Regions from separate parts of the Homo sapiens genome. Here region 1 is linked to region 2. A link means that fine-mapping ties the variant in region 2 to the expression of a gene that starts in the linked region. Tissue or cell type: lymphoblastoid cells. Region 2 holds a variant in brackets; the other region holds the start of a gene. All regions are shown on one strand. Distances are between the middles of the regions.

Region 1 (8,292 bases), 150 kb after region 2:
TGACAGAGCAAGACTCCAACTAAAAAAAAAAATAAATAAAAATAAAAAATAAAAAAATAAAATTTAGTCACATACCATCACCATGGTTTTGGCCTTAACCATACACCACCTACAGTAATATTTATTTAATTTTTTTAAACTTTATTTATTTATTTGAGATGGAGTTTCACTCTTGTTGCCCAGGCTGGAGTGCAGCGGCATGATCACAGCTCATTGCAACCTCCACCTCTTGGGCTCAAGCCATCCTCCCACCTCAGCCTCCCAAGTAGCTGGGACCACAGGTGCATGCCACCATGCCCAGCTAACTTTTTTTGTATTTTTAGTAGAGGCAAGGTTTTGCCATATTGCCCAGGCTGGCCTAGAACTTCTGAGCTCAAGCAGTTCTTCCACCTTGGTCTCCCAAAGTGCTGGGGTTATAGGCATCTGGCCTAATATTATTTTTAATGACCCTTTACACTTAAAACTTTATCTTTAAAATTACGTTAAAAGGAAACCTTGATATAATACAGTGAATAGAAATCTAGTATCACATTCCCCAATTAGTAAGTATGTAAGAATAAAATCTTTACTTTTTATATTTTTCCTATTTTGGAAGTGAAGAATGAAATTTTTAATGTTTGCCCTTGTACTAGCAGTGGTATGTGTAATATATTTCGAGAAACACTGCACTAACACCTACTGTTTACATACTATCAAAAACCCCAGTTCTGCCACTAATTAGTTGTGCCACTATGGACATTTCACTTTCTCTTTCTGGGTTTTTTTCTTTAATTTAGGATAAGTTATCTACCATCTCTAAAATCTCTCCCTGCTTTAAAATTTTGTTATTTAAACTCTAAAGTACAATCTGTCTTGCTCTACAGAATGTACATCTCTCTCTTTTATGAACATTGTATGGCGTAGAGGAATTCAGAACTACAAAACATTCATGTCCTGTCATTTTACCTCTGTCCTAAATTTGCCCCTTTTTCAAGTCTCATGGGATGGTAGGTATATCTTTCTTTTCTTTTTTTCTTTTCTTTTTCTTTTCTTTTTTTTTTGAGATGGAGTCTCGCTCTGTCGCCCAGGCTGGAGTGCAGTGGAGTGATCGCAGCTCACTGCAACCTCTGCCTCCCAGGTTCAAGCGATTCTTTTGCCTCAGCCTCCCGAGTAGCTGGGACTATAGGCGCACGCCACCACACCTGGCTAATTTTTGTATTTTTAGTAGAGACGGGGTTTTACCATATTGGCCAGGCTGGTCTCAAACTCCTGACCTCATGATCCACCTGCCTCGGCCTCCCAAAGTGCTGTTTTTTTTTTTTAATTTTTAAGGGTAAATAGTAGGTGTATATATTTATGGGGTACATGAGATATTTTGATACAGGTATACAATGCATAATAAGCACCTCAGGGTAAATGAGATATCCATTGCCTTAAGCATTTATCCTTTGTGTTACAAACACTCTAATTATACTCTTTTAGTTATTTTTATTAAAAAAATTTTTATAGCCAGGACATGCTCTCATCTGAACTTCGTTATTTTTAAATGTACAATTAAATTATTATTTACTATAGTCACCCTGTTGTGCTACCAAATACTAGTTTTCATTCACTCTATTTTTTTTGTACCCTTTAACCATACTCCCCCACAAACCCTCTGCAACCCTTCCCAGCTTCTGGTAAACCATCCTTCTACTTGCTATCTCCATGAGTTCAACTGTTTTAATTTTTAGCTCCTACAAATTAGTGAGAACATTTGAAGTTTATCTTTCTGTGCCATCCTTATTTCACTTCCATCCAGTTCCACTTGATCTTCAGTTCCATCCATGTTGTTACAAATAACAGAATCTCATTTTTTTTTTTATGGCTGAAAAGCACTCCATTGTGTGTATGTGCCACATTTTCTTCATTATCTGTTGATGGACACTTAGGTTGCTTCCAAATCTTGGCTACTGAGAATAGTGCTGCGATAAACATGGGAGTGCAGATATCTCTTTGATATACTGATTTCCTTTCTTTTGGGTAAATACCCAACAGTGGGACTGCTGGATCATATAGTAGCTCTATTTTTAGTTTCTTGAGGAATCTCCAAAACTGTTCTCCATAGTGACTGCACTAATTTACATTCTCACCAACAGTGTTTTATCCAAATCCTTGCCAGCATTTGTTATTGCCTGTCTTATGGATAACAGCCATTTTAACTGGGGTGAGATGCTATCTTATTGTAGTTTTGATTTGCATTTCTCTGATAATCAATGATATTGAGCACCTTTTCATAAACCTGTTTGCCATTTTTATGTCTTCTTTGAGAAATGTCTATTCAGAGTTTTTATCCAATTCTTAATCAATTATTAGACTGCTTCCTAGAGAGTTGTTTGAACTCCTTATATATTTTGGTTATTAATCCCTTGTCAGATGGGTAGTTTGCAAATATTTTCTCCCATTCTGTGGGTTCTCTCTCCACTTTGTTGATTGTTTCCTTTGCTGTGCAGAAGCTTTTTAACTTGATGTGCTCCCATTTGTCCATTTTTGTTTTGGCTGCCTCTGTTTGTGAGGTATTACTCAGGAAATCTTTGCCCACTCTAATGTCCTAGAGAGTTTCCCCAATATTTCCTTTTAGTAGTTTCATAGTTTGAGGGCTTAGATTTAAGTCTCTAATCCATTTTGACTTGATTTTTGTATATGGTGGGAGGTAGTGGGTCTGGTTTCATTCTTCTGCATACGGGTATCAGTTTTCCCAGTATCATTTATTGAAGAGACTGTCTTTTCCCCAATGTATGTTTTTGGTACCTTTGCTGAAAATGAATTCACTGCAGACATATGGATTTGTTTCTGGGTTCTCTATTCTGTTCCTGTTTTTATGCCAGTGCCATGCTGTTTTGGTTACTATAACTCTGTTGTATAATCTGAAGTCGGGTAATGTGATGCTTCCAGTTTTGTTCTTTTTGCTCAGGATAGCTTTGGCTATTCTGGCTCTTTTGTGGTTCCATATAAATTTTAGGATCTTTTTTCTATGACTGTGAAGAATGTCACTGGTATTTTGATGGAGGTTGCATTGATACCTCTTAATTTTCTAAGGGTTTTCCTTATCTCTTAATTTTCTAAGGGTTTTCCTAAATAAGAGTACTAGTTTATTCTTGCTGCCAGGTGATGCTTGGTAAAGAAAGAAATGGCGGTGGATGGACCACCCTAACTCCATGATTCCAATCTTACTCAGCTTTCTAAGAGACTCGTAAGGAACCTGCTTCTTCTTATCCAGACACCCACTCACCACAGTCTAACCAAATCATCATTTTGCCTTTCAACCCAGAGGGACAGACAGTAATTTTACCCATCCACCCCATAACGCCAAACACACGTCATCATGCAGAATTTGGTGTCAGAACTGGAAGGGACTCTATGATCACTCAGGCTAATACCTCACTGTACATATGAGAAAACCCAGAGTACAGAAAAAGAAGCGACCAAGCAGCAGGGGCTTGACTTGGAGTCTAGTGCTCTTTCCCCAGTCTAGGCTCCCTCCTGCCATCTAACAAAATGAAGCCAATTTCTCTTACGGTTCTAGGGCCTCTCCTTCGCGTCTCTGCTGTGGCACCTTTCCTTAGCCGCCTCTCCGACTGCGAGAGCTGATCGAGAGCTGCCACCGGCCGCCGAAGCCTGGATCAGGCTCTGTCCCGACGCCTGACCGGAACCTGAAGCCAGCGGAAATCCTGAGAGAAAGTCTGAAACCCACTCAGTCCCCGAAACCTTGTGTGTCGTCACTGCTGTGCGTCGGCGGGAGCATTTTGCGAGTGTCCGGGGGCCTTCGTCACTTCCGCCCCCGCGGCAAAGCAGGGAGGTCGGAGGACTGGAGAGGTGGGGACCCTGGGGAGGTGGCTGCTCGGAGTCTAGGTGACGGGGCGAGACGGGGCCGGTAGGTGGCGGGAGGGGCCGGGCCGGAGCCGGCGGGAGGGCCAGGCCCGGAGGCCCCCACCCTGGCGTGCCTGCCCCGGCCGCGGCTGAGGAGGAGGAGGAGGAGGAGGAGGAGGAGGATGATCTCCAGATACACTCGGAAGGCGGTGCCACAGAGCTTGGAGCTGTGAGTGGACTGCTCAGCCACCCCAGCCGGGGCGGGCGGCGGGCGCTCTGGGGACCCTCCTTGACCAGTCCTTCGTTCCTTTCCTTTCCCAGGGCTGGGGAGAGATTTTTCTTCGGAATTCTCTCCTCTCAGCCCTGCTGGACCCTGCCCCTTCTTCCTCCATCTCCAGCTGAGGGCGTGTCGCCCTTCGTCTGAAATTCCTGAAATCAAGCACTGGGTCTGCTGAAGCATTTGTAGCATCCGCAGTGCTTCAGGTCCCATTGTTAATGGCCATGGTAGCTCGAGAAGTTATTAATAGCTAACTGAGGGCTCCAGGAAAGTGCTCACTTGACACTGTGCAAAGCTATTTACATACATTTGCTCATTCCTATCAATGATATCAGATTGGGAACATTATTTTGCACATTCTACAGATAAAGATCCCAGAATTAAAGATTGTAGCATGCCAAAGATCACACAGCTTGAAGGTGGTAGAGCTGAGAGGTACAAACCTGATGTCGATCTGATTCCGAAGCCTGTGGTCATAACCATCACACATACTGCCTCCCCACCTCTGCAATTAAGCACCAGAATCCATAAAGATCAGTTTTGCTTTTGAGACTTTAAAGAGCAAATATTTCTGGCTTTAAAAAGATCCACCCTCACGGCCGGCCGTGGTGGCTCACGCTTGTAATCCCAGCACTTTGGGAGGCTGAGGCGGGCGGATCACTTGAGGCCAGGAGTTCGAGACCAGCCTGGCCAACATGGCGAAACCCCATCTCTACTAAAAATGCAAAAAAAAAAAAAAAAATGGCCGGGCATGGAGGCGGGGGCCTGTAAACCCAGCTACTTGGGAGGATGAGGCAGGAGAATCACTTGAACCCGGGAGGCAGAGGTTGCAGTGAGCAGAGGTCACGCCATCGCACTCCAGTCTGGGTGACAAGAGTGAAACTCCGTCTCAAAATAAATAAATAAATAATAAAAAAATAAAAAGAGCTGCCCCCTACCCTGACCGAAGTGGTGTATAATAATTTAGAAAGTAATAATAGTGTCATACATTTATTAATGCTTTACACTTCCAAAAGGGCCTTCACTTTTTTTTTTTTTTTGGAGACAGGGTCTTGCTCAGTTGTCCAGGCTGGAGGGCAGTAGTGCAATCCTTGCTCACTGCAGCCTCCACCTATGGGCTCAGGTGATCCTCACAATGTAGCCTCTTGAGTAGCTGAGACTACAGGTGCACACCACCACAACTGGCTAATTAAAAAAAAATTTTTTTTTGGTAGAGACAGGGTCCCACTATGTTGCCCAGGCTGGTCTCAAACTCCTGGACTCAAGCGGTTCTCCCACTTTGGCCTCCCAAAGTGTTGGCGTGAGCCACCATGCCCAGCTCACTTCACTTTTTGATCTTAACAACTCTGTAAAGTGGGTATGATTATCTTCAGTCTTTCAGAAGATGAAATTATATCAGAAATGTTACATATTTTAAGATTATATAGCCAAAAAGTCAGGAGTTGAGCTTGGGCTTTAACCCCAAATTCCAATTTTTTTTCCTTCATGGAGCTATATAATTTTAGCAACCATAAATTTATTAATTAAATATTAACTTTTCCTTTCATTTAGCTATGTAATTTTAGCAACCATAAATATATTAACTATTAATATTAATTATTAACTATTTAATTTATTAAATATTAATTATGCACATACATGATAATTGCAAGCATGCTATTTTGAATCATTCTTGGGTTTCTGGCTAGGCTGTCTTCTAGCCACGTGACTTTTAGGCAAATTACTACATCACTGAGCCTTCGTTTCTGCAATATAGGAGTAACACCTTATCCAAAAGCTTATTTAAAATGATGGTGTGGACCCCCACACCTGTAATCCTAGCACTTTGGGAGGCCAAGGTGGGCGATTGCCTGAGCTCAGGAGTTCAAAACCAGCCTGGGCAACATGGTGAAACCCTGTCTCTACTAAAAATGCAAAAAATTAGCTGGGCATGGTGGCACATGCCTGTAATCTCAGCTACTTGGGAGGCCGAGGCATGAGAATTGCTTGAACCTGGGAGGCGGAGGTTGCCGTGAGCCGAGATCACACCACTGTACTCCAGCCTGGGTGACAGAGGAAGACTCTGTCTCAAATAAATAAATAAATAAATAAAAATAAGAATAAAGTGATGGTGTGGAGCTTGACACATATACATCCTCAATAAATGGTATTTTCCTTGTCCCTTCGCACTTTTACTTGGGATACAATAGGCATACAAAGAAAATAAGTCTAAAACCTCTCTTTGCCTTTTAGAAGCTTATTATTTATTAAGGAATAAGATATCTACATGGTAGCAGTTTAGTTCCTAGTAAACTCTTTGGGAACTAGGAAGAAGAAACAGTCATCTCTTAGATTTGGGATGTGTTGTTCCTACTTAAAAAAAAAATTGTGAGGAAACTGTCTTTTCCCAATAAAGTGACTGAGGTTTAGCTAAAAATCTGCTTTTATGATTAATTCCAACCATTCTGAAAGTTAAAAAAAATCTTGTATGGAAAAAAATGATAGGCACTTGTTGGGCCAGAATTATTATTAACTAGTATAGTTGTATCAGTTTTCTTTCTATTTTTTTTTTTTTTGAGACGGAGTCTCTGTTGCACAGGTTGGAGTGCAGTGGTGCCATCTTGGCTCAGTTGCAACCTCCACCTCCTAGGTTCAAGTGATTCTTCCACCTCAGCTTCCCAAGTCACAGGACTACATGCCCAGCTAATTTTTGTATTTTTAGTAGAGATGGGGTTTCACCCCAGGCTGGTCTTGAACTCCTGGACTCTGTCTGCCTCGGTCTCCCAAAGTGCTGGGATTATAGATGTGAGCCACCGCGCCTGGCCTACTTGTTCTTGATTGTTGATTTGATACTCCCTATAAGGCCCAAAAGATGATTCTGTAGCTGGAGTCAGGATGAAGTGAATAATGAAGATAATGAAGATAAAATGTATCTTAATGGGAGCAAATTCAAAGCAATTTTTACTTTAGATGTTATAATAATGATAACCTGCTTTGAAGCCGTAACTTTAGTTTTCTACCTAGCCATTAAAAATTATAATTGTTGAAAAGAGTATGGGAAAGGAATGATTTTCAACATACAGCTTAACATTTTTTAATGAAAAATTTCAAACATAAACATATAGAGAATAGTATCATGCACTACCTGTCACCCCACATTCAACAGTTAACAAAGTTAATATATTTGCTTCATCTATCTTCCTTATCCTTTTCTTTCTTTTTTTTTTTTTTTTGAGACAGAGTCTCACTCTGTCGCCCAGGCTGGAGTGTAGTAGTGCCATCTCGGCTCACTGCAAGCTCCGCCTCCCAGGTTCACGCCATTCTTCTGCCTCAGCCTCCCGAGTAGCTGGGACTACAGGTGCCCGCCACCATGCCCAGCTAATTTTTTGTATTTTTAGTAGAGACGGGGTTTCACCGTGTTAACCAGGATGGTCTCGATCTCCTGACCTCGTGATCTGCCTGCCTCAGCCTCCCAAAGTGCTGGGATTACAGGCGTGAGCCACCGCACCTGGCCTCCTTATCCTTTTATTAACTTCTCTGCACCTCTCTGTGAAATAACGAAAGCAAAACTGCAGATACTGCCATTTCACCCCTATATATGTCATTATGCATCTCTAAAAATTATGGACATTTTTGTATGTAGTCATAGTGCCATTATTAAATTTAATGATATTTTTTGTTATCTAATTGTCAATTCATAGATTTCCCTGGCAGACTAAAAAATGTCTTAAGTCTCTATTTCATAGCTTGAATTTGTATTTCTTATCCTTTCCACTTTTTCAAAGACAAGCTCTTGGTTGTAGGACCACTGAATGAGAGACATACAGGTAAGTCTGCACAAATTGATCTCCACAATTTGAGAAATAATTTAAAGTGCAAGCTCCACTGACTGGGCTCTTAGCTTTATCTTTATATAGAACAATGGTACAATTCACTAAAATCTCAAACTCTTCATTTCCTTCTAGAGGCCTTCCTCTGAGAGCCAGATTACTAGGATTTGAATCTTGGCTTCATCGCTTACTAACCAAATGACCTTAAGCAGGTTACTTAATCCCTCTGTGCCTTAGTTTCCTTTGAAATGAGAGTATTTGAGATTTATGATAAACATTTGCATATTAAAGACCTGGAAGATCTCTTGTAAAGAAATCTGTGTAACTTTGTTCAACCTATTACAGTTCCTGAATGTATTTGACTACAGAGTTTTGTGA
Region 2 (8,292 bases):
TAAACTAGGATGCTGAATCAGAGCTACACAGAACAAACTTAAAACATTAAAATGAATCTTGTCATCAAATCCCAACTTAATCTAAAAATTTTAGTGACGACTTACATAAAACAGCCATGTAGCAATTCTATTTCCTGTCCCCAGCTCTTTGAAAGCATCTGGCTCATCTTTCTGTGAATAAAAACACAGTAAATTCAATGGTGTAAAAATTCAGTAATACAAATACTCTAGTGGCAACTAAACATCAGTAGTAATATCCTGAAGAATATGCCAACAACAACCGCAAAAGTTTCCCTTGTAATGTCCAGTGCACTATAAACATCAGGCAATCTTTTTGTAAGATGGAGTCTTGCTATGTGGACCAGGGTGATCTTGAACTCCTGGCCTCAAGCGATCCTCCTGCCTTAGCCTCCCAAAATGCTAGGATCACAGGTGTGAGCCACTGTACCTGGCCTCAAATACGTGATGACTGAACTTGTATACTGGATACTTTAGACAAGATTACTGGATAAAAAGCAGACTTATTAGCCTAAACGACAGCCATTATCTGCAAGCTACATATTATTTTAAAAACAAATACCCACAATTTTAGCTTCTAAAAAATATGACTTGACAGCCATCTCTTAGCTATACTCCTGAAGCTTAATTTACCTTGAGACTTACTTTGAACTCACGACCTACTGAAATATTTCCTAGTATTATTTTCTTTTTTCTTTTTTTTTTTTTTTGAGACAGAGTCTTGCCCTGTCGCCCAGGCTGGAGTGCAGTGCCATGATCTCAGCTCATTGCAACCTCCACCTCCCGGGTTTAAGCAATTCTTCTGCCTCAGCCTCCCAAGTGGCTGGGGCTACAGGCGTGTACCACCATGCCTGGCTAATTTTTTTGTATTTTTAGTAGAGATGGAGTTTCACCATGTTGGCCAGACTGGTCTTGAACTCCTGACCTCAAGTGATCCACCCACCTTGGCCTCCCAAAGTGCTGGGATTACAGGCATGAGCCACCACGCCTGGCCCCTAGTATTATTTTTCTAATAATGCTAGTAAAGTGACTTTCAGCACTATAATCAAGCTAAAGAATTAATATCTAAATATTTATATCTAAATTAAAATACAATACAACCTCTTGGCATTTCTCCCAGAAAAATGAAAATGCATTTTTCACATAGAAATGTAAACACATCTTTATTTGTAATAGCCAAAAACTAAAAACTATCCAAATGTCCTTCGATGGGTGAATGGCTAAACTGTGGTATATCCGTAACATGGAATACAGGTTGAGCATACCAAAAGTCCAAAATGCAAAATGCTCTGAAGTTCAAAACTTTTAGTGCTAACATGACACAAGTGGAAAATTCCATACATAGTACTCCCTGAAGTAGCTCCCCTATCATACACACTATGCCCCAGCCAGGATGGAAACAGACAGTTCCCCATAAGGCTCCTGTATCACAAGAGATTTATTTTCAAACCCATTCTTTCTTTACTGAAGGTGTAATCCTTGTGGAGATTTAGAGTTTATGCCAGGGTCTCAAATTCAGCAGCCTACACTGTGGCAGATCCTCCTCTTACAGAGCTGTTATTCCCAAAGCTCTAGTTCCTGGAGGCACATACCTCCAGCCTCTGTGTTTTGTCCCCTCTTTAATTCTCTAAGTTTGGGATCATTGTTCAGTTTGCCTTTTGGAACACCCTTTACTTTCTTCCAGGCTTGCCAATGCATTTAAAGTATCTTAAGTGATTTTATTGGGTATCTAGGTGTTTGGTTTTTTTTTTTTAACTGGTAAAAAGGTTTCACAGAATATCTGCCACACCGTATTTCCATAAATTCCAAATAGGCTATGAATTTTTAATGTTAAAATAACAGAATTAACATGTTGACAAAGAATCTCTCCTTGACCCAACTACTCAGGCTCCTCTGAACTTTCTTCTCAAGTAGGCCCTGACTTTGGGCTTCTGGTATTTACCTCTGCATTGTCCAATTTAAGCAAGAACCCTGCTAAGTCAGGTTAGCCAGAATTCCCCGTCCTTGCCATGTGATCACCCTCAAAACCTAACTGGGTTCTTCATCTTCCACTATCCCCTGGATGATGATCACTCTTCCCTGACTTCAGCAAGAATCCTGTTAGGTCAGTTTAGCCAGAATCTTCCCTTACCTCTTAGTAATTTTCCATCTACTAACACCCACCCTTGCTCATTGGCTATAAATTCCCACTTTTCCTTGTTGTATTTGGAATTGGGCTTAACCTCTCTCCCTTACTGCAAAATCCCACTGCATTTGCAGTGGTCCCTATACCTATCGCAATGGTCCCCCCTTGAATGAAGTCTGCCTTACCATCTTTAACAAGTGTCAAGAATAACTTTTTCTTTAACAATGTAATGCGGCCGGGCACAGTGGCTCACGCCTGTAATCCCAGCACTCTGGGAGGCTGAGGTGGGTGGATCACCTGAGGTCAGAAGTTCAAGACCAGCCTGGCCAAAATGGCGAAACCCTGTCGCTACTAAAAATACAAAAATTAGCTGGGCATGGTGGCGCATGCCTGTGATCCCAGCTACTCGGGAGGCTGAGGTAGGAGAATTGCTCCAACCCAGGAGGCAGAGGTTGCAGTGAGCCAAGATCGTGCTACTGCACTCCAGCCTGGGTGACAGAGTGAGACTGTTTTTTTGTTTTGTTTTGAGACAAACAATGTAATGCATAAGCCTCAGTGAATTTCTCCATTTCTTTTTCACTTACCCGTGCAAAGTCAAAATGGGGTTCATACTGTCCTCCAACTCCATAATTTGCTACCTGAAGGAAAGACACAAAGCATGAAAGAAAAGAACTATAAAGATTACTATTCAAAAAAAATCTATGAACCTCATTTTTTGGACTTTTATAGATCATGGTCAGGTATTTACAGAGAAATGAAAAATATTTAAAATCAACAAGAGTTCCTATGAAAACAGGGATGAAAAACAAAGGACAGCTACTATATATCTATGTACAGATCTATATCTACAGATGTATATATAGATATCTATATCTACAGATGTATATATAGATATCTATATCTACAGATGTATATATAGATATCTATATCTACAGATGTATATATAGATATCTATATCTACAGATGTATATATAGATATCTATATCTACAGATGTATATATAGATATCTATATCTCTATACAGATCTACATATATAGATATCTATATATATAGATCTATATCTACATATGTACCCCTCCCCACCCCCCACCAGAGACAGGCTGGAGTGCAGTGATGCAATCAGAGCACACTGCAGCCTCAACCTTTGGGGCACAAGTGATCCTCCCACTTCAGCCTCCTGAGTAGCTGGGACTACAGGTGCATGCTACCACACCCAGCTAATTTTTAAAAATTTAATACATAAGCTAAAATTTGAGATTTCTATTATTTTGTTTCACTAAACACTTTCCTTTGGAACTTAAATCAAAAAATGTTTTCCAAAGCCCCAAATGCTGAACTCGCAATCCACTTTAATAAAATATCTTTTCTTACATATTTTTTCCCTGCTAAAAAAGGAAAGAAATTAACACCAATTTAATTATTCCTGTCGAAGGGCCCTAACAACTTCAGTTGCTTACGACAATGTCCCAGTGTGACGCACCAAAATTTAAGAAAAATATTTGGTCTGAGTTCAAGTTCCAGCTCTCTTAATTACAATGTAACTTTGGATATCATCTCAGTTTTCTTATTTGTTAAAGTGAAGAGAATGATACTTAACTCTTTCCCTCAATCACACAACACAATAAAATGCTGACAAAATCAAAGGAGAACATAATTAAGAGTGCTGCTGATGAAACCAGAAGGAGAATACTGGTGGAACTGGAACTGCTGGAGTGTGTCTTGCTCTGGGGCCAGTAGCCACAGCACCCCTTCATCCCTGAAGCTAAGCCAGGAATGAAGGCCTACTTGAAGGCCTGACATTCCCAAGCAGAGCTGCCAGCAGCTGTTACACCCTTCCTGGTGGGGTCAAGAGAGGTGGAACTGCTCTACCCACCCCTCCCCCAACTCCCTGAGGCAGGAGCTGCAGCCATGTACTCCCTCCCAAGAAAATAGTACTTTGGCAGAACCCTGCATCCCATGAGATGTCTGGGCCACCCAGAACAGTCACGTCCCCTGAGCCTGAGCTGAAACAGCACATCACCCTTGGGGAATTGTTGCACTGGCCAAGCTGAGCAGCTGCACATCCCAGGGCTGAAGTAGTACCCAGAGACCCAGGGAAACAGAGCAGTGGCTAAGCTGAGAAATGTGCCCTGCAGGGCAAATAACTCTAGTACCCTGCTTCCCTGGAGAGTCTGCGCTGCTGAGACACTTCTCTTTCTAGGGAGTGAAGTCATTGCTGTGCTGCTCTCTGCCCCACAGGGCCCAAACAACAGGCATGCTTGGCCATTCAGGGGTGCCTGTTCCTGCTGTACCTGGCCTCAGAGTCTGGGATCCATCTGAGCTCCACCAATCCAGGTTCTAGAGTGACTACTAGAACCTGGTGCCTCATCCAGGGCACCTCATCATGGTGCCTCATCCCCAGGGATAGGAGTTGCCACTAAGCCCTATTGGCTCAGGCTCCTAATAGAGCCAAACCCTGCATCCCAGACTCAAACCTCCAGAGCATCCTCTCTTCCCTGGAGTTGGGCCAGGGCTGTGCCCTGTCCACCAGGGGTAGACTCACAGCTACAACCTGACACTCTTTTCCCAAGCAGCTAGAGGGTGCCTCAGAGTCACAGATCCTGGCACTATAGGCAACCTACATCCAACCCTGCCAATAGTGACCCTGTACCCTAACACCCAGGTGTTACAATAGTATGCAAGACCCTGAGCCCAGGATCCTAGCCCCATAGCCACTCCAAACGCTTGCACCTGGATTGCAGCACCATGGCAGCTGCTTGTAGGATATGTAAGACCTGCCACCAAGA[A/C]GACTCCCACTGGCTAAAACTCCCTATTGTGGGGAAAACAAGAATGGAAGGATTCCAAAAGCTCTTGCCACTGAAGATATTAACAATCTACTCCACAGCTACCACCACTGCAAACTTCTCCAGCCTAGGCTGTTGAGGCACCCACAGTTATTCTGACAATGAATGCAGCTGAATAGGCTATAAGAGACTACAGTACTGAACCTACCTGGAAACAGAGTCACCACACCCTTCCCAAACAGCCCAACAGAAGCGGAAAGTTTAAAAGAGCCAATTGTTCCACTAGATGCACAGACATCAATGCAGGAAACAAGAAACATTAAAAAGCAATGAAATATGACACTGCTGAGAATGTAACTCTCTAGTTACAGGCCCAAATGTAAAGGAAATCAACACCTAGCTAGAAAAAAATTCAAATAATGATCTTAAGGAAACTCAAACAGATAAAAGAAAATACAGATAGATAATTCAATGAAATCAGGAAAACAATTCATGATATGAATCAGAATTTCAACAAAGAAAGATATCATAAAAAAGAACCAAACAAAACACTTGCAGCTGAAGAATTCAATGAATGCAGGAGGCTGAGGCAGGAGAATCGCTTGAACCTGGGAGGCGGAGGTTGCAGTGAGCCAAGATCTTGCCACTGCACTCCAGCGTGGCGACAGAGCGAGACTCTGTCTCAGAAAAAAAAAAAAAAAAAGAATTCAATGAATGAAATTAAAAATACAATACAAAGCTGCACCAGCACACTTGATTAAGCAAAACAATCTCTGAACCTGAAGATACATTATTTAATATTACTCAGAGGGGAAAAAAAAAGGAAACAATAATGAAAAAGGATAAAGAGAGCCTACAAGACTTCTGGGACACCATTAAACATTTGTATTACAGGAGTTCCAAAAGGAGAAGAAAGGTAAAAGGCACAGAAAACCTATTTAATAATAGCTGAAAACTACCCAAGTCTGGGGAAGAGATAAGGGTATCCAACTCCAGGAAGTTCAAAAGTCCCCAAATAGATTCAACCAAAAAAAGTCCCCTCTGAAGCACATTTCAGTCAGATTGTCAAACATCAAAGACAAATAAAGAATTCTAGAAACAGCAAGATAGCTAGATTAACAAAGAAAAAAGATCCAAATAAGCACAATCAGAAATAACAAAGGTGACATTACAACTGACCCCAAAGAAATATAAAAAGTCCTCAGAGATTATTATGAACACCTCTATGCACACAAACTTTTATAAAAAACCTAGAAGAAATGGATAAATTCCTGGAAACACACAACCTCCCAAGACTGAAACAGAAAAAAACTGAAACCCTGAACAGACCAATAAGGAATTCTGAAATTGAAATTCAATTTTAATTAAAAACAAAAAAACAAAAAAACAACCTACTAACCAAAAAAAGCTCTGGACTGGATGGATTCACAGCTGAATTTTACCAGACATACAAAGAGCTAGTATCAATCCTACTGAAATTATTCCAAAAGATTGAGAACGAATCTTTCCTTAACTCATTTTATGAAGCCAGCATCATCATTCTGATACCAAAACTCATCACAGACATAATGAAAAAAGAAAACTTCAGGCTGATATTCCTGATGAACACAGACACAAAATACTCAAAAAAATACTAGAAAACAAAACCTAGCAGCACATCAAAAAGTTAATTTACTATAATCAATTAGGCTTTATTTGTGGGGTGCAAGGTTGGTTCAATAAATGTAATTCACCACATAAACAGAATTAAAAACCATATGATCATCTCTGCAAATGCAGAAAAAGCTTTCAAAAAAATTCAGCATCCTGGCCAGGCACAGTGGCTCACACCTGTAATTCCAGCACTTTGGGAGGCCAAAGTGGATGGATCACCTGAGGTCAGGAGTACGAGACCAGCCTGGCCAACATGGTAAAACCCTGTCTCTACTAAAAATATAAAAATTAGCTGGGCATGGTGGCAGGGGCCTGTAATCCCAGTTACACAGGAGGCTGAGGCAGGAGAACTGCATTAACCCAGGAGGTGGAGGTTGCAGTGAGCCAAGATCACACCACTGCACTCCAGCCTGGGCAAGAGAGTAAGACTACATCTCAAGAAAAAACAAACAAAAAAACCCAAAAATAACAGACACTGGCAAGGATGAAGAGAAAGGGGCATGCTCATACACTGCTGGTGGGAATGTAAATTAGTACAATCACTATGGAGAACAGTACAGAGGTTCCCTTAAAAACTAAAAATAGATCTACCATATGATCCAGCAATCCCAGTGCCAAGTATATATCCAAAAGAAAGGAAATTAGCATGATGAAGAGATATCCGCATTCCCATGTTTATTGCAGGACTATTCACAACAGCTAACATATGGAATCAACCTAAGTGTCCATCAACAGATGAATGGATAAAGAAAATGTGGTGCTTATATATAATGAAACACTATTCAGCCATAAGAAGAATGTAATCTTATCACATGGATGGAACTGGAGTTCATTATATTAGTAAAATAAGCCCAGCATAGACAAATATCACATGTTCTCACTCACATGTGGGATTTCTGCATTTCCAACTGAGGTACCTGGTTCATCTCATTGGGACTGGTTGGACAGTGGGTGCAGACCATAGAGAATGAGCCAAAGCAGGGCGGGGCATCGCCTCACCCAGGAAGCACAAGGAGTCAGGGAATTTCCCTTTCCTAGCAAAGGGAAGCCATGACAGACTGTACCTGGAAAAACCGGACAATCCTGCCCACATACTGCGCTTTTCCCACAGTCTTAGCAACTGGCAGACCAGGAGATTCTTTCCTGTGCCTGGCTCAGTGGGTCCCATGCCCATGGAGCCTTGCTCACTGCTAGTGCAGCAGTCTGAGATGGACCTGAGAGGTTGCAGCCTGGCTGGAGGAGGGGTGTCCACCATTGCTGAGGCTTGATTAGGTAAACAAAATGGCCAGAAAGCTCAAACTGGGCGGAGCCCACCACAGCTCAGCAAGGCCTACTGCCTCTGTAGACTCCACCTCTGTGGGCAGGGCATAGCTGAACAAAAGCCAGCAGACAACTTCTGCAGACTTAAACGTCCCTGTCTGACAGCTCTGAAGAGAGCAGTGGTTCTCCCAGGATGGCATTTGAGCTCTGAGAACCAAAGACTGCCTCCTCAAGAGGGTCCCTGACCCCCGTGTAGCCTAACTGGGGGAAACCTCCCAGTAGGGGCCGACAGACACCTCATACAGGCGGGTGCCCCTCTGGGATGAAGCTTCCAGAGGAAGGATCAGGCAGCAATATTTGCTGTTCTGCATCCTCTGCTGGTGATACCCAGGCAAACAGCGTCTGGAATGGACCTCCAGCAAACTCCAACAGACCTGCAGCTGAGGGACCTGA

Which allele goes with the higher level. Alleles are on the strand shown, and positions count from the first base shown. SD is a standard deviation of normalised expression in the study named.
For the expression in lymphoblastoid cells of the gene that starts at base 3,790 in region 1, allele C in region 2 goes with a lower level than allele A (large effect, 1.1 SD a copy in GTEx).

Evidence for each region. PIP is the estimated chance that this variant, and not a neighbour inherited with it, causes the effect.
Region 1: it holds the start of FAM149B1, and the variant in region 2 is fine-mapped to the expression of FAM149B1 in lymphoblastoid cells (GTEx, PIP 0.93).

Annotation. Positions count from the first base shown.
Region 1 is chr10:73,164,330-73,172,621 of GRCh38, forward strand. FAM149B1 (family with sequence similarity 149 member B1) reads left to right here and starts at 3,790. Exons shown (of 14, transcript NM_173348.2): 1 at 3,790-4,057. The coding sequence starts at 4,011. It overlaps ECD (ecdysoneless cell cycle regulator), which reads right to left and starts at 3,679. Exons shown (of 14, transcript NM_007265.3): 1 at 3,537-3,679. RefSeq lists enhancers at 3,498-4,097, 3,604-3,803, 4,698-5,296 and a silencer at 3,854-4,043.
Region 2 is chr10:73,014,119-73,022,410 of GRCh38, forward strand. It overlaps P4HA1 (prolyl 4-hydroxylase subunit alpha 1), which reads right to left. Exons shown (of 15, transcript NM_001017962.3): 11 at 2,728-2,781; 12 at 106-171. Among named protein-coding and RNA genes, the nearest start is that of PLA2G12B, 63 kb to the left of the region's middle. RefSeq lists an enhancer at 4,201-4,760. The variant A/C (reference allele first, on the strand shown) is at 4,930.